Regions from separate parts of the Homo sapiens genome. Here regions 1 and 2 are each linked to region 3. The links come from fine-mapping of genetic effects on gene expression. A gene starts in region 3. Each other region holds a variant in brackets. All regions are shown on one strand. Distances are from middle to middle.

Region 1 (6,294 bases), 56 kb before region 3:
GAGCGCGGGCAGGGCCGCATCGACGACGAGGCGGCGCGGCGAATCCAGGAGGCGCTCTTCTGCCTTCACGACGAGCGCGACTGCCTCTACGAGTACGTGCCCGACAACGTGGTGTCCATGCGGCGCATCGTCAACACCGTGCCCATCACCGTGCGCCTGCTGCAGCAGCAGCAGCAGCAGGGGGACTTTGGGGGCCCCACGCCGCGCCAGGCGGTGGCGTGGGTGGTGCTCGCCAACCAGTGGCCGTGCCGCCTGAGCTGGGCGCTGCAGTGCCTGGAGGACCGGCAGCAGACCGGGGGCGCGCCCGAGGGCCGCGCGCGCCTCTGGGACGTTTTCCGCGACAACAGCCGCGAGCTGCACACCATGACCAAGGCGTTGCAGAACGTGCTCGACCTGGACGGCGACCCCGAGCTCTTCGAGCGCTTCCTGGGCGCCGACTTCCCCTTCACCGTGGCCGAGGCGCAGAGCCTGCTGCGCTGCACGGTCAACCTGGACCACTCCATCCGCCGGCGCATGGGTCTCATCCGAGCCGTCAGCGCGCTCAAGCCGCCCAGCCCGCCCAAGTCCCCTACCCGCGATACCCCCCACGCTGCCCACCGGGCCAACAGCGCCTCCAGGGCGCCCCCGTCGGGCCGTGCCTCAGGGCAAGCCGGCGAAGGCCACCACACTGGGGACTTGGCCCACAGGGGCAAGCTATGGCCGGTGGCCTGTGCGCTCTTCCGTCCAGGGCAATCCAGCCCAGGTGGGCCTTAAATGGAGGACTTGGCGGGCAGCAGGAGGCAAGGGTTCCTCCATCTGCCCAGATGGGAGAATAGGGGGCTGGACTGGGGCCGCAACCCAGGGTCCGAATGAGCCCTGTGAGGCCCACACCCCCAGGTGAACCTGAGCCAGAGCCGTGGACATAGCTTCCAAGGAGTGCGGCCACAAGCCGGTGCCAGCATGAGAGCAGGCACAGAAGGACCAGTGAGGAAGTCAGGGTATACATGCAATAAATGGAGGTGTTGAGAGCCCGGAGTTGCTCTCCGCATCCTGATCTGACCAGGGACCAGGCCTGCCCCGTCCTGCCACAGGGCCTGCCCCATCCTGCTAAGCCCACTTACTCCTCTGCACCATGCTGGCCTCCTCATCTGGCATCTCTGTGGCAGGAGAGGCTGCGGGGGTGGTGGGTGAGGCTGCAGAGATGACAGGTGGATGGGCCAGGTTGACTCAGGCAACATGGAGCGCCCAGGCCTCAGGGAATCCCAGTCCTTGTCCCCATGCCCTAGCTTGCCCCTCTGTGAGTAGGGCAGGGGCTGGCATTTCTGAGGATGACCTCGGTGACCTCAGCAAGCTGCTCCACCCCTAGGGTGGCTCCATTCTCAACGTAATGGGTTAGACCTCGCTGGCACCTCAGCCAGCTGGAGTGGGTGGCACTAACCTCCCCCAGACAAATAACTGTCCACAGGGTACCTGCCTTACGAGTCACTCCAGGGCCACTGGTTAGTCACTGACACTGAAGCCACTGCATCAGCCCCCTGATGAGGACAGGGAAGTTGGGCAGAGATGGGGACATACAGGGCCCAAGCCACAGCCAGCCAGGAGGGGTTACACTAGGGCTCCCCCACTTTCCCTCTGGGCAGAGCCCTGGGCTGGGGGTGGGTGTCACTCCTCTGGGCAGTTCCTGATTCCTCACTGGTCAAATGTTCAGCCACACGCTCAGGCCCTGGGGTGCCTGGCCCAGTTCCAAGTGTGTGCCGGCAGGGGCCACAAGGGCCAACACTGAACATACCCTGGGATGAGGCTGAGGGTGTGGCTTCTGAGCCAGGGCCCTGAGGCTGGTGGAGGGGACAGCCCCCGAGGAACCTGAGAGCTCTGCAAAGGCACACACCCTCAGGCCATGGGACTGGGTCACTGACCTCACAGTTCTTTAGTTCCAAGGCTGGGCATAGCATCCAGGTCTGGCTGCAGCACCGGAGTTCTCTGGCCACAGCAATTGTCACAGGTGCATGCAGGTCAGTGGGAGCCCTCTATGATCTTCCCTGGGGCTGGGCAAGCAGAGGTGCTGTTTCCCATTCCTGGACTGACTAAGCTGGTAGGATACGCCTGGACCTCCTGGGAGCTGTTTCCCAGCAGTCAGGGAGAGCTGGCCTCAGAGGGAGAAGGATGGGGCCTCGTGACACCGTTAAGTCTGTTTCTGTAGATGTGTGGTTGGGGTCAATATATCCCTGTAGCCTCCCTTAAGCCAGTTTCAGTTGGGTTTGTTTCTTACCACCTGGAATCCAAGCTGAAAATAAATTTTCACTCCTGTTACCAGGAGTGGGGTGCTGTGAGAGATGCTAACGTGTAGACTTGGCTGGAGGTGAGGGCAGGACTGAAGCCCCCCATGCCTCAGTAAGAAGCTGCATCAGCCTGGCCAACATGGTGAAGCCCTGTCTCTAATAAAAATACAAAAAGATTAGCTGGGCATGGTGGTGCATGCCTGTAATCCCAGCTACTCAGGAGGCTGAGGTGGGAGGATCACTTGAACCCGGGAGGTGGTGGCTGGAGCCAAGATGGTGCCACTGCACTCCAGCCTGGGCGACAGAGCAAGACTCCGACTGATTAAAAAAAAAAGCCGCAGCCTCTGTTACGTGGTACAAGCTGTGGCCAAACTGTTGGTCACTGTATCTTCACGTGGAGCTGCTATGAGAACTTGCACCTGTGTAAAGCCACGGGACCGTTGTCACGAACAAAAAAGGAGCACGGCTGACCTGTGCGCCTTTCCCAGCAATGAGTCAGGGAGCAGGTTTCCCTTCTCCACTCCCTTCCCCCATCTGCCCACTTGATCCGGGATCCTTGAGGCCCTGGGGAGCAACAGAGCCCTAAGAGCTTCAAAGGGGCCTGGGTCCAGGAATAACTTGGTGAAGAGCTGCCTGCCACTCTGAACATCCACATGTGACAATAAACATCTCCTGTGTTAGGACATTGAGATCTTGCATGAAACAGACCCCCTACGTCTTCAGCAAAGGCTACCAAAACGTGACAAGCTCGGGTGACACTTGGGTGGCTGAAGGGAAGGGGAAGACAAGATGGCAAGGGGGATCCTCTCAGCCTCCAGCCCTCGATCTGGGACCCTTCAGAAAATCAGGAGCGCGGCAGGCTGGGGTGTTGTGGTAACGGCTGTGGTTTCTAGAGCTGCTCTAACACAGTCTAACAGACCACGTGCCTTTGAAGGACAAATGTATCGTCTCTCGCTTCTGGAGGCTAAAAGTTCCAGATGAAGGAGGGGCTCTCTGTGCCTGCTCCCCACTCCTGGTGCATTGCTGGCCATCTCCGCACTCCCTGGCTTGCAAAGGCATCACCCCATCCTCTGTCTTCACGTGGCAGTCTCCCTGTGCCCAAATGCCCCTTTTAATAAGGACACCAATCAGACTGCAGCAGGGCCCACCCGAGTGACCTCATTA[A/T]AATGAGTTAAAACTTGATTACCTTTGTAAAAACCCTATTTCTAAGTGAGCTCACATTCTGGGGTACTGGAGGTAAGGACTTTAAAGATCTTTTTTTGGCCAGGCGCAGTGGCTTACGCCTGTAATCCCAGCACTTCGGGAGGCCGAGGTGGGCAGATCACGAGGTCAAGAGATTGAGACCATTCTGGCCAACATGTTGAAACCCCGTCTCTACTAAAAGTACAAAAATTAGCTGGGCGTGGTGGTGCACGCCTGTACTCCCAGCTACTCGGGAGGCTGAGGCAGCAGAATTGCTTGAACCTGGGAGGCGGAGGTTGCAGTGAGCCGAGATTGCGCCACTGCACTCCAGCCTGGCAACAGAGCGAGACTCCAGCTCAATAAATAAATGAATAAATAAATAAACAAACATCTTTTTTTGTGGGAGACACAATTCAACCCCCAACAGTAAGAAAGGCCCAGTTCCTCACTCCAAGCTCAATTTAGTGAAAGCAAATCAAGGGACAGGCTGGGAAGAGGATCCCTGTCCCTCCCCTAGCATACCTCACATGGGGTGGGGAGGCAGACGGCCAGCGGGCTGGGTGAGACCCCAACACAGCTGCCTCCACAGAGGCTGAGACCATGAGCAACGGCTAATATCGACCAAGGGCCTCTGAAGATCGTTGGGGCACTGTGCTGACCCAAACCAGGCGAAGGACAGAGGTCTCTCAGTACCTTGATGCAAACACCTCACATGCCCCGGCCCCTCACCAAGACGGGCTGGATCCACAGTGGCCAGGAGGGGGCCCCTTCTTCCCTTCACCCATGGCCACATCGCACATTAGCAGAGCTGGGGACAAGCTGGCTGTGCAGGGATGGGAAGAGTGCTGCGGGCTGCTGGCGGCTGTTCTGTGTAGCTTCCCTAAGTCCCTCGCCCAAATAAGAGTCCTAGCCGTGGCTGACCTGGGGAGCAGTTAGGACACTTACAGCTGCAAGGGACCAAACAGCAAACCAGCAGTGGCTTCCTAAGGTGTTCCTCCCAGAGGCCAGGGTGGCTGGGGGCAGGGGACTCCCTGGTGTGTGCAGGAGCTGAATGACACCAGGGCTCCAGCCTGCGACTGTGGTTCTCGTGATGTCACCACAACGCCTCCATCCATGTCAGCCTCCCACACGGGAAACAAGGGGATGGGTGGCCCAGAAATGCTCGTTTAGTAATTTTTTTTTTTTTTGAGACAGGATCTCACTCTGTTGCCCAGGCTGAAGTGCAGTGGTGCAATCACACCTCACTGCAGCCTCAACCTCCTGGGTTCAAGCGATCCTCCCAACTCAGCCTCCTCAGTAGCTGGGACTACAGGCACACGCCACCACACCCAGCTAATTTTTGTATTTTCTATGGAGATGGGGTTTCACCATGTTGCCCAGGCTGGTGTCAAATTCCTGGGTTCAAGCAATCCTCCCACCTCAGCCTCCCAAAGTGCTGGGATTACAGGTGTGGGCCACCATGCCCGGCCTGCTCCCCCCTTTCCTAAAGGGAAAAACAGACCTCTCAGAAATCCGCAACAGCACCCCCATGGCCCCCCAGGCCCCTGCTGGCAAAGGGGAACAAGCCGCCCACCAGGCTCCTGCAGTGCTGGCTGGGCCCGGGGCATACTCCCACCTGCACAACACCTGGGGCTGCCAGGGACAGGCTGGGATCTGTTCCTGTTGAGCGATGGGCGACTGGGCAGAGCCACTCCATATCCAGCATCCTGAGACCCTAGACCTGAAGCCAGGAGGTATCTGGGGCCTGTCTCTCCCTGCAGAAAGGATGGGTGTAAACTCGCCTGGCTGGGAGGTGACCGTACGAGACACCAGAGCATGGATGCAGAATAGACGGGACTGTGGGGGAAGACGCAGTAATGCCTGACCAGTGCCCTGGCAGATGCTCTGTAACCAGGAGCTGTGATGGCCTCCACCCAGCCCACCCCCAGCAACCACCTCCAGGATCCGCACGAAGCAGACGTTGGGCAAAGTGAACCCAGCCCCAGTTTATTAGAAAAGGTGTGAACAGAGTTGCACCGACAGGAGTAGCCCCAGCCCTCTGCCCACCCTCACCCACACCCATGCCACTCGCCCCCAAAGGGCTGTAGTGCCTCTCAGGGCGCAGCCTCCAGTGGCCTGGACAGCAGGGTCCCGGAGTGCCGGCTGCTCCCGCCCCAGCTCCCTGATAGATTTATTGCACTTGAGAAAAAGAAAGCTCTGATCCTCTGCTCCCATCCCCCCACCCTGCCCGGCCTGCGCTGTCTGGGGCTGTTCTGTGCATCTCAACCACCACCAGCACGCACCGCCTCTCCGGCACCAGGCTGCCTGCCCGGCCCTGTGCCCGGGGCCACAGGGGACCATCCCACCACCACCCAGGACGCCTGCCCTCCGCAGGGCAAGCCTGGCCCCTCCAGAACAGGCGCCTGATGTCCTTGGAGACCTCCTCCTCCTCCTGCTCCCCCTCCTCCCATTCACCCCCAGAGTCTTCCAGTGCTGGGCTCATAAATAGAAGTGCTTGAGTCACGCGCGGAGGGCCACTCCCTGTAGCTCCTGCACCCCTTGTAGTGTTGCTGTGGGGGGAGGGGGGCCCCAGAATGGCCCCCACCCCTGGCATCCTGGGCCTCAGGAAGGCTGGGGGGAAGGTGAGCAGATTCTCATGGCTCTGGCCTCAGCTCATCGCAGACCGACCGGAAAAAGGGAACTTGGGGAGGAGAGATTGGGGGAGAGACTGTCAGAGCCAGAGGCTCTCTCAGCTCCTCCCGAGTGCTGTGGGCCCCGGGCCTGGCCTCACCTAAAGTGTCACAGTGTCTCCTGCCCGGATTCCTGACTGGCTTCCAGAAGCAGCTCCTCGAGCTCCTTCTCGTTCTTGGAGCAG
Region 2 (6,294 bases), 23 kb before region 3:
AGCCCTACCTGGCCACTTTCCCAGTGGTCTGATCCTGGGCCTGGGGCAGATGACAGTGGAGGACAGAGGGTGCCGGCTTGGGGCTGAGTGTTCCCACTGTTTCACAAGCAATGTATAGGTAAAATGATAGCTATCTTAGAGCTGCTGCAAAATAATGCAGGTGAGAGTGGCATGGAGATAGGCAGGAACAGATTGGCCATGTAGTCATCAATTCTGAAGCCAGAAAGTGGGTCGGTCCATCAGACTCATTATACTCCTACTTTCTTGTGTCTGAAAATGTCCATCAAAACACAGTTAAACGGGCCAGGCACCGTGGCTCATGCCTGTGATCCCAGCACTTTGGGAGGCCAAGGTGGGCAGATCACCTGAGGTCAGGAGTTCGACACCAGTCGGGCCAACAGGGCAAAACCCCATCTCTACAAAATACAAAAATTAGCCAGGTATGGTGACACATGCCTGTAATCCCAGCTACTCAGGAGGCTGAGGCAGGAGAATCGCTTGAACCTGGGAAGCAGAGGCTGCAGTGAGCTGAGATCGTGTCACTGCACTCCAGCCTGGGTGACAGAGAGCAAGACTCTGTCTCAAAAAAAAAAAAAAATTAGACGGGTGTTGTGGCACGTGCCTGTAATCCCAGCTACTCGGGAGGCTGGGGCAGGAGAATCGCTTGAACCCAGGAGGTGGAAGCTGCAGTGAGTGAGATCACACCACTGCACTCCAGCATGAGTGACAGAGAATGAGACTCCGTCTCAAAAACCAAAAAACAAAACAAAAAGTTAAATGAGAAAAAAAAAAAAGCAGCAGCTGCTCAGAGGCGGTGGCCCACAAGGAACCCAGAGGCGGCAGGTGGGCCGGGAGGGAGGTCTGGCACCAAGGCCAGTCTCTCACGACAGAATTAGTTATAAAGCCCAGCCCGGCTGTGGAGGCAGCCACCTGGGTGGCTCCCTGGGGCCCGGCCAGCAGGTGCTCAGTGAACGTGGGCTAAAGGAAGGAAGGAACTTGGGCCTCATGCCCACCCCTGAGGGACAGGACAGCCAGATGGAGGGTTGTCAAAGGAGAACTCTGAGGTACACGGTGAGGGGTGGCAGGAAGCTGGGGCTCCTGGCACAAGTCCGTAACTGTGGTGTCCCAACGTTCGGCAGGGAGTCCACTGACAGCTGTCATTTACTACGCAGTTATCTCAGGCAAGCCCTTTATGTACCCGAGCTCCCTGAAACCTTAGCACATCCCTGGGAAGGGGATATGGCCGGGACCCCCAACCCAAGACAAAGAAGAGGAGGGTCAGAAAGGTCACATCCCTGAGTGACCACACAGACCACACACTGTGGGGATCCTCCTCTTTCACTGCTGAGCCACTATGACCTTCAGAGTCAGCCTCCTAAATGAGAGCCCAAAGTCAGCTCCGTGGCCACACACTTGCCTTCCAGGAACAACATCCTCAGATGCCCTGTGACACAGGTCACAGGCCCCGGGCTTCCCACCCACTCTGCACTGGGGAACCCTCTCCCCCTGCTAAACTGGGAGCTCCCCTGGGCACTCATGGGGACAGCGGCTGGGTGCCGGGAGGCCTGGACATAGAATAGGGCAGTGACACAGGCCAGCCTGAGGGGAGGGCTGCAGCTACCTCTGTAGGCAGTTGGAAGCCCAGGCGGGGACTTCTGGCTGCTGAGCCTGTTCGGAAAAACCTCTGCCTGTGACTCCTTGGGAAAAATGAAGGGACGCTGGTGGTGAGTTCTTCTTCCCAGTGAACAACCGCTGGGCACCTCCACCCCCAACAGCCTCTCAGTAACCCAGAGGCCTGAGAAACGCGGATCACGCGGGGGCTGGAGCTGTAAGGCTGAGGAGGACACCTTCCCCAGCAGCCTCGGGCTCATCAGCTGAGCCACTGAGTCAACAATGCCAAGGACGAGCACTGGCTTACGGAGCCAGCCTCCTGCCAGGTGCTACTCTAAGACTAACTCTGCGGCCTCATTCTTGCAGCCCGGTCTACCAGCTGCCCTAAGCCTTTGCTCGGGTAGCCCCACTGGCCTGTCCCTGCCTTGGGTGGGATGGCTGGGACAATCTCCAGGCTAGGTTTCCCACCACCAGTCAGCGCTTCAGAACTGCATGCCCATGGTAGGCACACAGAAGACCTGGTGGGGACCTGCAGGGAGACTCCCTGAGATCACCTCCCACCGTAGAAGGAAAACCCACGTCCTGTGCAGTCCCCGCCATTCAGACCCAAAGCAGGCGCACAATTAGCTTAGGAGACCGTGCAGGAGCGGGCTGGTTGCTGCCACAGGCTTTCACTCGGCACCACCTGTCCCTGCACTGAGAGTAAAACCTCAACTCCTCAGCCCAGGACAAGGCCCCCTGATGCCAGCACTCCACCGGGGCTCACCCTCGGCTCGCCCACGCCTCCTCAGCCACTCTACAGGCTTTGTGGTTTGTTCCCGCCTCCGGGTCTGCAACTGCTCTTCCCTCCCTCTGACAGCTTCCCTCCCCTCCTGCAGCTTAAGCCGCAGCTGACTTGCCATTCAGATCTCAACTCGAAAGTCACCTCCTGGCCAGGCGCAATGGCTCACACCTGTAATCCCAGCACTTTGGGAGGCTGAGGCGGGTGCATCACTTGAGGTCAGGAGTTCGAGACCAGCCTGACCAATATGGTGAAACCCCATCTCTACTAAAAATACAAAAATTAGCCGGGTGTGGTGACACGTGCCTGTAGTCCCAGATACTTGGGAGGCTGAGACAGGAGAATCGCTTGAGCTGGGAGATGGAGGCTGCAGTGAGCCAAGATCGTGCCACTGCACTCCAGCCTGGGCAAAAAGAGCGAAACTCTGTCTCAAAAAAAAAAAAAAAAAAAGTCACCTCCTCTGAGAAGCCTCTCCTGACCCCTTTCTGTAGCAGCACCCCCATCCCCATCCCCCACACCACACCCAGACAACACTCTGCCTCCTCACTGGACACGTCCCAATCTCTAAGGATCTACTTGCTCGTTTTCTGTCCTAGACCAAGGGCTCCCTGAGTCTAGGGACGTCACTGTGGTGTCTGTCGCTGTGAGTCTATGAATGAACGAATGCACCGACTCACTCTGGGAAATGAAGACAACGTCCACCCTTCCCTTCTCCCCAGAGAACCACGGGCTGGAGGGAAGGGAGCCCGCAATGCGTCCTGGAAAGTTAGCCTGCTCAGGGGAGGCTGGGATGGCCGGTCCTTCCCTCTCAGACCCCCGTGCCCTCCTCAGGCCTGCTGAGAGGCCGTGAGTCCTGCAGTTTCCTGGGTGAGAGGGGCTCTTCTCTGCCCTTCCCGGCAGGGAGGCACCACCATTCAGCCAGTGGGTACCGTGGCCACATGCTGCAGGATGGCCAGCTCCAGGGGGCGGGCTAGGCTTACATAGCCAACAAGGAGCCAGGCCTCCAGACCCCAGGCCTCAGGCAGGGATGTGGGCAAGGCCTGCCCACTCCAGTGAAGGGCGCAGATGGCAGGTGCCACAGGCCTGCCTTCCCTTCCCCTCGTCCTGACCTTC[C/T]CAACTGCCTGCCGCAGCTGAAGATCCTGTTACAGAAACAGATGCGGTCAGAACACACTCATGGCTTTCCAAGTCTCTTGGGACGGAAGGAACAAGGCAGATTGGGCGCACCTTCCCTCATGCCACAGCGCCTCACACACAGCAGCTGCATGTAAGGTCAATGGCAGGCTTGGATGAAAGCGGAAGTCAAGGCCTTAATCCCTGGGTCCCCAGTCAAGCAGTGTGCTAAGCACCCGAGTCCCCCCATGTGACACACAACTTTTTTTTTTTTTTTGAGACAGAGTCTCACTCTTGTCACCCAGGCTGGAGTGCAGTGGCACAATCTCAGCTCACTGCAACTTCCGCTTCCTGGGTTCACGCAATTCTCCTCCCTCAGCCTCCCGAGTAGGTGGGATTATAGGCACCCGCCACCACACCAGGCTAATTTTGTATTTTTAGCAGAGACGGGGTTTCACCATGTTGGCCAGGCTGGTCTCGAACTCCGGACCTCAGATGATCCACCCGCCTCGGCCTCCCAAAGTGCTGGGATTATAGATGTGAGCCACTGCGCCTGGCCGCAACTTTTAACGATAAATAATTTTTACGAGCAATGGCAAGCACTTACATATACTACCTCATTTACTGTCTTCAACAACCCTAAGATAGGTAGGGTTTATTATCCCCATTTCAAATGGGGAAACTGAGGCCACAGAATCAGTAAAAGTCAGAGCCGGGATTCGAGCCTGAGCAGTCTATGGCTCCACAATCCTCACTCTTAGCCAAACCCTTGACCTTTCTGTTCATGCCACGGTTTGGGGTACAGCTATCCCTCCCCCATCCTTTCCAAAGGAGGAAACTGAGGCGCAGGGAGATGGAGCATGTGCCAAGGACACACAGCACAGGTAGGCCTGACTTCAAAGCCCACTTCATCTGGTTGGTGGACCCCATGCCTCACCCAAGAGTTTAAGGCGTTCAATATCCTGACCCAAGCCAGGTACCTACCCACCAGCCTCGCCACTGTCTCCTCTGTTCCAGCCTTGGTTTATTTCCTTCCAGACCCTTCTCTCAATCTGCAGTGGTGCTGTCTGCTGGTTGGCCAACTTGTTTCCCACACTTCCCTCTCTCTGGACAATAAGCCTGGAAGGCAGGGCCGGGCTTGCCTTGCCACTGCTGTGTCCCCAGTACAGGACTGGGCACTGAGCTCAATACTCGCTGAATGCATGCCTGAACCACTAAGAAAACACAGCCAATCCTGTGGTGGAGACTAATAACACTCTCAGAACACAAGGGCCCAAGACTGTCCCCTAGCCCAGGGCTTTCTGCTGGGATGTGTAGGGGGAGTTAGGGGGTTCCTTTATGGCCTCCATAAGCCCCCCAGCTGGAAGGAGCTTCCCAAAGGGATGTACACATCTGAGGACACTAGTGACTTTCTGCCTTGTGATGTGAATGCACCTTCCGAAAATTTAATTTTTTATATTTTGTGGAGATGGGGGGGGGGGTCTCACTTGTTGCCCAGGGTGGTCTTGAACTCCTGGCCTCAAGTGATCCTCCTGCCTCGGCCTCCCAAAGTGCTGGAATTATAGGTGTGAGCCACTATGCCCAGCCTGTGAATGCACCTTCTAAACACATGTAACAGCAACCTAGTGAGGGCATGGCCTTTGCAGTCAGACCTTGTATTTGGGGGTGCCTATTTGGGGTGTCTGCAGAGCCTCCTCTAAAAACTGCCCTCCACCCCAACAAGCGTGGGCTGGCCCTCTATCGCCCATTTGACAGGGAGGATGTGGGGTCCTAGCTAAGCCTGCATGAGCTGCCCGGGTCAGGGGGCTGGACTGGGTGGTCCTGTTCCAGACACCAGGAGGGCTGGGCTTGTGTGGCCCATGGCCAGCCTAGTGGAAGACGTTCTGAAGAGAGAAAGAGGAACAAGGAGTGCATGTGTTCCAGAGAGCAGGTGGCAGACCTGGTTCCTGCCAGCTTTCAGGACCCCTGGGAACAGGCAAAGCCTGGCCTCCATCCAATGAACACCCTCATTCACCTCCTGTGGCCCCAGGTGGATTCTGGCCCTGATAACTCAACAGACCCCAGTTGACACAGGCAATGGCTCTCGACCCTTCATGGCTGAGTCTCCTCATCTGCAAAATGGAGCCAATGAGACTGAGACTGACACACAAAGACTTCTAAAAGCAGCCACTGAACTCTCTTGTGTAAAGCGTCTAGTGTGGGGCTGGCGCGTGGCAAACGGAAGCCCCTGTTATTGCAGAGGCCAACGCCTCAGCAGCCCCCGGGAGAGTGGATGCTGGATGAGCAAAGAGCAAGCAGAGCCACCAGCTCCAGCCAGGGGCCCCCAGTCACCACCCCACCTGCTGCCTCCACCTGCCCCCGGGCTCTGAAACGCTGACCACACCCACTCCTGTCTGCCCTGAGACAAATATTTACCCAGGGCTGGGCACCTGATGGTGCCGAAGTGAAGACCTGGGGATAAATAATCACCAAGAGTGGTGAGGGGGCGGAGAGAACTCTCTGAGTGAGCTCACGGAGTGGAGGGGAACGCAGACTCAGGGACAAAGGCAGCGATGGCCCAGGGCTGACCCTGCCTCCTCAAATCAGAGGCAGCACTGGGGCCAAGTAACTCTGTTCCTCAGTCTCCCCATTTCCAGCTTTGCCATGAAGAGTCAAGAGGACAGGAGGTAAAGCTCTCTGAATGCCTGGTGCCTGCAGACAGGCTCTGCTACCATCGTGCAGGGCAGGGGCTGGGCTCTGGCTGCCAGGAGTGAAGTTCAGATTTGCCACTGACTAGCTGTGAGGAGCTGGAT
Region 3 (6,161 bases):
GCATTGACTGCCATCTCTCCCCTCTCCTGGAAGCCTCTGAAGCAGCCACATCCAGGCCCCACCCCATGCATGAACTCCTCCACACCAGCCCAAGATGACCAACACTGTCTTAATAACAATGACTGCCATCGAGAACACTCACCCTGGCCAATTCCTTTCCATATGTGACTTCATCCAGTCCTCTCCTAAATTCCGTGGCAAGAGTATTGCCACCTACTTCACAGATGGGAAGACTGAGGCTCAGGAGTTAGGTAACCAGCCCGAGGTCTCAAAGGATCTGACCTGGAGCCTCTGCTCTTGAAACACCCTGCTCTGCCTCTCCAGGTCTTTCCCCTTCCTGCTCTGGACTGGATATCACGCAATAGCCAGGGGGCATTCTGACTGTGCCCGGGTCCCAAACTAACCACCTATCCCTGGGGCCTAGAGCCCAAGGACTTGGCTGGCTCCTAGTGCCAAAACTCTTTTTTTTTTTTTTTTTTTTAAGACCGGGTCTCTGTCACCCAAGCTGGAGTTCAGTGGCGCAATCACAGTTCACTGCACTATCGACCTCCTGGGCTCAAATGATCCTCCCACTTCAGCCTCCTGAGTTGCTGGGACTACAGGCGTGCACCACCACACCTGGCTAATTTTCGTATATTTTGCAGAGACGCGGTTTCACCTTGTTGCCCAAGCTGGTCTTGAACTCCTGGGCTCAGGTGATCTGCCCACCTTGGCCTGACAAAGTGCTGGGGTTGCAGGCATGAACCATGGCGTCCGGCCCAAAAGTCTTAATTTAACCACTGCCTCTTTAAGAATAACTAGCCAGCCGGGCACGGTGGCTCATGCCGGTAATCCCAGCACTTTGGAAGGCTTAAGTGGGCAGATCACCTGAGGTCGGGAGTTCGAGACCAGCCTGGCCAACATGGTGAAACCCCCAACTCTACTAAAAATACAAACATTTTTAGCCAGGTGTGATGACAGGTGCCTGTAATCCCAGATACTGAGGAGGCTGAGGCAGGAGAATTGGCCTGGGCGACAGAGGGAGACTCCGTCTAAAAAATTATAATAAGTAGCCAAACTGTCATTCATGATGGACTCCCTGTGTGTTCAGTTTCCAGTTACCATGTTTCCCACCCTCACATCAAAGCCACCAATTCCTCCATTGTCCACAGACTGGCAATAGTTTCTCCCCTTGCCCAGGGCCGGCAGATCAGCTTCTACAGAACCACGGCCACCACAGCCAGTCTGATCCCTCACTTCATGGGCTCCACCCCAGGAGAACTGACAGACTTCTCCAGCACAAAATGGACTCAACACTGCCCTGCATGTCCCAAGCGACTTTCCACTTTCCCAGCCCTATGGCTCCAACACACTCCTTTCAGCTCCAACACTGACCTGACCCTCTCCAGTGCGCTGGCCCTCTCTCCCAACACTTCAAGTAGCCAACTTTTTCATCTCTCTCACCTGCTACTGGCCAGCAACTCCAATTTCTGACTTGATAACATCCCCCAATTCTTTTTTTTTTTTTCTTTGAGCCGGAGTTTTGCTCTTGTCACCCAGGCTGGAGTACAATGTCGTGATCTTAGCTCACTGCAACCTCCACCTCCCGGGTTCAAACGATTCTCCCTGCCTCAGCCTCTTGAGTAGATGGGATTACAGGTGTGCACCACTATGCCCGGCCAATTTCTGTATTTTTAGTAGAGACGGGGTTTCCCCATGTTGGCCAGGCTGGTTTTAAACTCCTGACCTCAGGTGATCCACCCACCTTGGCCTCCCAAAGTGCTGGGATTACACGCCTGAGCCAATGCACCCGGCCATCCCCCAATTCTTTCTCAGGAAGGAACAAGAGGACCCTTCCGTAGCCATGTCCCAAACATCCTCTGCTCCTGAATGACTGACAGCCTTCCTTCTGCTTCTCTTTTTTTTGGAGGAGGAGGCGGCGGTAGGCGTTGGCTTTTCTTCTTAATACCACATTGCAGCAGGCGGCGGTGGCTCACACCTGTAATCCCAACACTCTGGGAGGCCAAGGAGGGAGGACAGCTTGAACCCAGAAGTCCGAGACCAGCCTGGGCAATGTAGTGAGACCTTGTCTCAATAAAAAAGAAAACATAAAAACCACACTGCCTCTTTCTCCCTCACCCAACCACAAATTGACCACCACCTCTGCTCCTCTTCTGGGACCTTATCTTGACTCCTTTTTACCAAGTCCTCTATAGCCACAGTCCAAGTTTATAGTCTCCCTCTTTCCAGCCAAGAAAGTGGCCAACACGACCACTCCTTGCCCCAAGGCTTGCAGACCAGCAACTTAACCTCTTTTTACCCCCATAGACCCATCAAACTCTTTCAACTGCCCTTTCAGGCCCAGTGTTGACCCGCTCCTCCTCTCAACTGCTCCTTCTCTCCTTCTCTGGTGGAACTACGAACGCAAAGGCTGCCACACTCTACATCTGACAAAACACCAAACTTTCTTTAATTGCTCATCGTTTTAAACCCTAAAACGATCACCATCTTTGTCTCGGGTGGGTGGGGTGCGGCAGAAACCAGATACTTTTCACCTTCCCAACTCCATAGCCACCCCCTTTCTAACAGACTACGGTTCTAAACTGACGACTGTCCCCTTATTCACCATTAGGTGCAATCTATTGAACGCCACCTCGAGCCGGGCCCTGCACCGATCCCTCCCGACTCCCGGGTCCCTCTCGAGCCCGCCCCCGCTTCACCCGCGGTAGCTACCATGTCTCCAGGGGTCTTTGGGCTCCACTGCTCCAGACACGATATCCTCGTCGGACGGGAATGTGACGCGCTTGGCTGCAGCCTTGAGGCGCCCATCGGCGGGGGGCGACGCGGGGCTGGGAGACCCGGCCTCAGCTGGGGCCTCTTCAATGTCGCCGTCCGCGCCCGGCACGGGCGGCGCCTCCTGCGGCGCGATCTCCATAGCCGCCGCCGCCTCCTCACGGGGGCCCCGGGGACATGCCCCGGGCCCCGGATTTGTCTCTCCGGGTCCGCCCGCCGTCCCGGGGCATGGGCTCCGCCGCCGCTTCAGGCGCCGCCTCCGTCCGCTCTCCTAGTGGTCGTAGTCGTCGCCGCCGGGAGCCCAAGCGCGCCTCCGCCGAGCCCCGCGCGCGCCTGCCCGTTCGCAGTCACACTTTCGCTCGAGGCTGGCGAGCCCGCCGCTTACTATAAGAAGCAGAAAATCGATTTCAGCGACTTGCACGTAGAGTTGTCCCGCGGGTGACATGAAGAGAGAAACAAAGGGCAGGAAGGGCCACGGAAAAAAGAAACGTGAGCAGCGAATCTGCAGAGCCGGAACTGCAGACTATGAGGGGCGGGGCGAAGTAGACGCCGTCTCCAAGAGCAGCGCGCAAGCGCGAAGCTGAGCCCACGCCTTCCTGCCGGAGTCCAAATAACGAATATTCAGCTCCCGCACATTCGTCAAGAGCCCAGGGAATGGAGTGCATAGAACTGAAAACACCTGGCGGGGCGCGGCGGCACACGCCTATAATCCCAGCACTTTGGAAGGCTGAGGCGGGAAGATCGCTTGAGTCCAGGAGTTCGAGACCAGCCTGGGCAACATAGCAAGGCCCCGTCTTTACAAAAAATTTAAAAATTAGCAGGGTCTGGTTACAGGAGCCTGTAGTTCCAGCTACTTGGGAGGTGGGAAGATCGCTTGAGCCCGGTAGGTTGAGGCTGCACTGAGCTATGATCGCGCCCCTGCACTCCGACCTGGTAGACAGAGCCAGACCCTGTCTCAACGAAAGGAAAGAAATGGGCCGGGCGCGGTGGCTCACGCCTGTAATCCCAGCACTTTGGAAGGCCGACACGGGCGGATCACGAGGTTAGGAGATCGAGACCATCCTGGCTAACACGGTGAAACCCCGTCTCTACTAAAAATACAAAAAATTAGCCGGGCGTGGTGGCGGGCGCCTGTAGTCCCAGCTACTCGGGAGCCTGAGGCACGAGAATGGTGTGAACCCGGGAGGCGGAGCTTTTAGTGAGCCGAGATCGTGCCACTGCACTCCAGCCTGGGCGACAGAGCAAGACTCCGTTCCCCCCCCCCCAAAAAAAACAAAGGAAATAAATGAAAACATTGAGGCTAGACTAACTGATGAAGAGTGGTAACGGCATGAAGAAGTCGAAAAGAAAGGCGGATAGGAGCTGCATTCAATATATGAGTGCAGTTGATGGATGCTGACAGGGATACTCTGGAGACGAAGTCTCGGCCCCTTCGCTAGTCTCTAGTCCTCCATTTGCTCGCTGCAGTTACATCAACAGCTCTCTGTATCGGGGTAGAGTTGCATAAAATACAACTTAAATTACAATGCTAAAATAAATATGAGCCCATGAGCGGTATCATAGGCCTGATTTTAAAAAACAAAACCTAGGAGAAGGTAGAAATTCCAAAGGCGAGAGACGAATCTGCCAACCTAAATCCTGGGTGACAAGGCTGGTGGATCACCGAGGCAAGAAAGAACCAGCGTGAGCTCAAGCCACACCCCTAGGCTCAGACCCAACGCTTGACATTCGCCGCCGCACTTTCGCCACGCTTGCCGAAGCGCACCCGGCTAACTAGAGGAGGCGGGGCTGAAACCATAAAAGGGAACTGGGGCGGAGCGAGCTGCGTCGTCGCCAAGGCAACTCGAGAGCTAAGTCCGGGCCTCGGCGGAGCCGGCGCTGCGAATGGACTGATGGCCGCTGAGGCTGCTCCTGGCGCGGTTCATCATCGGCCGCCGCACTTTCGCGACTGAGACGAAACGACACTCACCTTTACTTAATGGAAGGCTTCGCTTACATCCTGAACTTAAAGGAACTACAGAAAGGGACAGAAACTGCTTTCTTTTTAAACAATGCGCTGAAAGGTTACTAGTGATAGGAGGCTTAGTGAAGCGCGTGATGTGAACGGCCACGCTGCAAGGCTGGAGAGAAAAGAGGAGGGAGTGAAGTTGCACCCTGATCGCGAATCCTCGGCCTTTTATCAGGGGCGCCGCCACTCGGGGTCCGACCATTCGCCTCCAACGAGGGGACAGCGAATCTGCTGTCGTGTGCAGTCCACAGCAACCACAGGTGGGGCAACAGGAGGAGCGCTTGGGCACGACCACGTGACCCAGCACGAGCCACCGCCCGCCCCAAAATGAAATCAAATCCTAATCTCCCAATCCCGGCATGCCGGTCACTCCAGCCTTTCCAGGAGACTTGCGGCCGTGCAGCCCCTACACCTTTATCTGGACTCCTGTCGTACTTGGCCCAGCTCCACTGGATTCAGCCCTTGGATAACCACCCTACCAGCCCCTAAAGATGACTCCATCCCCGTCGGTATAGTTAATTAAAGAAAAACAGGAGTCGAATTTTCCTGGGGTAACTGGTTCTTTAGCAGGAGGGGAGCACTGGGGAGTATCTTCAGGGTGGCTGGACTTTGCAGCCTCTTTAATAACTTCCCCCTGTGCAGGTTGTATCCTTTATCACCCCACCCCGATGCCCCGGTCTTCAGGAAATGGCAGCAGGCCCATATTTCTGTAGGGTTCAGAGTTCTGTGAGGTAGAGCATTCCTTCCAATGGGATCTTAGAATTCCTAGAGTTGCAGAATTTTACTGACTAGACCCAGGAGGTCTCAGGAGTCCAGACTTGCTTAAAGCTTGGCTCAAAATTCCAAGGGAGCTCATAACTCCATGGGGCCCAGAGTTCCTGGCTCGGGAACATTGGGAGGCCTGGGATACAGTGCCTTAGCCTCAAGCAGAAAAGTGAACACAATATCTTTATGGCTTGAAGGTATATGAAATAATGTCACTACATCGGAGCAGCGCCTCTGCTTGCACACCTATGGGAGTCTGCAGCTGTGACACGTAGAAGTTGGCCACATCCAGGTCGGTGGCTCCAAAGTGGGCGGCCACACGCACACCCTCGTGCAACGTGAAGCTCACCTGATGACCCACCATGGCCAGCAGGCTGCGGAGGTAACGCTCCCGAAGGGCGGCTCGTGCCCGCTGCTCCTGGGATTCCAGGGATTCTTGAGCTATGGGACACTCCTGGATTTCAGGAACCTCTGGCCTCAAGGGGGCTCTGCGTCCATCAGGGGCAAAGCCACGGCTGAAGCCATCAGGGCCCCGGGGCAGCCGGAGCACAGGCACGGGAATGTTCACTGGAGTTTGCATTGTCTTGGCTGTTGAGTGAAGAAAAAGAGCAGGAAG

Evidence for each region.
Region 1: its variant is fine-mapped to the expression of PPP1R37 in whole blood (INTERVAL, PIP 0.96).
Region 2: its variant is fine-mapped to the expression of PPP1R37 in whole blood (INTERVAL, PIP above 0.99).

Annotation. Positions count from the first base shown.
Region 1 is chr19:45,146,397-45,152,690 of GRCh38, reverse strand. PPP1R37 (protein phosphatase 1 regulatory subunit 37) reads right to left here. Exons shown (of 13, transcript NM_019121.2): 12 at 6,211-6,294; 13 at 5,406-6,120. The coding sequence ends at 6,219. It overlaps NKPD1 (NTPase KAP family P-loop domain containing 1), which reads left to right. Exons shown (of 5, transcript NM_198478.4): 5 at 1-2,947. The coding sequence ends at 753. Among named protein-coding and RNA genes, the nearest start is that of NKPD1, 11 kb to the left of the region's middle. The variant A/T (reference allele first, on the strand shown) is at 3,423.
Region 2 is chr19:45,113,460-45,119,753 of GRCh38, reverse strand. The region is part of intron 1 of PPP1R37 (protein phosphatase 1 regulatory subunit 37); the gene reads right to left. Among named protein-coding and RNA genes, the nearest start is that of PPP1R37, 23 kb to the right of the region's middle. RefSeq lists enhancers at 510-559, 740-789, 2,330-2,489, 2,668-3,323. The variant C/T (reference allele first, on the strand shown) is at 3,506.
Region 3 is chr19:45,090,079-45,096,239 of GRCh38, reverse strand. It overlaps PPP1R37 (protein phosphatase 1 regulatory subunit 37), which reads right to left and starts at 3,061. Exons shown (of 13, transcript NM_019121.2): 1 at 2,713-3,061. The coding sequence starts at 2,914. It overlaps GEMIN7 (gem nuclear organelle associated protein 7), which reads right to left. Exons shown (of 3, transcript NM_024707.3): 3 at 4,722-6,133. The coding sequence starts at 6,125. The coding sequence ends at 5,730. It overlaps GEMIN7-AS1 (GEMIN7 antisense RNA 1), which reads left to right and starts at 5,849. Exons shown (of 2, transcript NR_134887.1): 1 at 5,849-6,161. RefSeq lists silencers at 2,779-2,988, 4,506-4,690 and enhancers at 3,409-3,458, 4,799-4,848, 4,459-5,453, 5,454-6,161.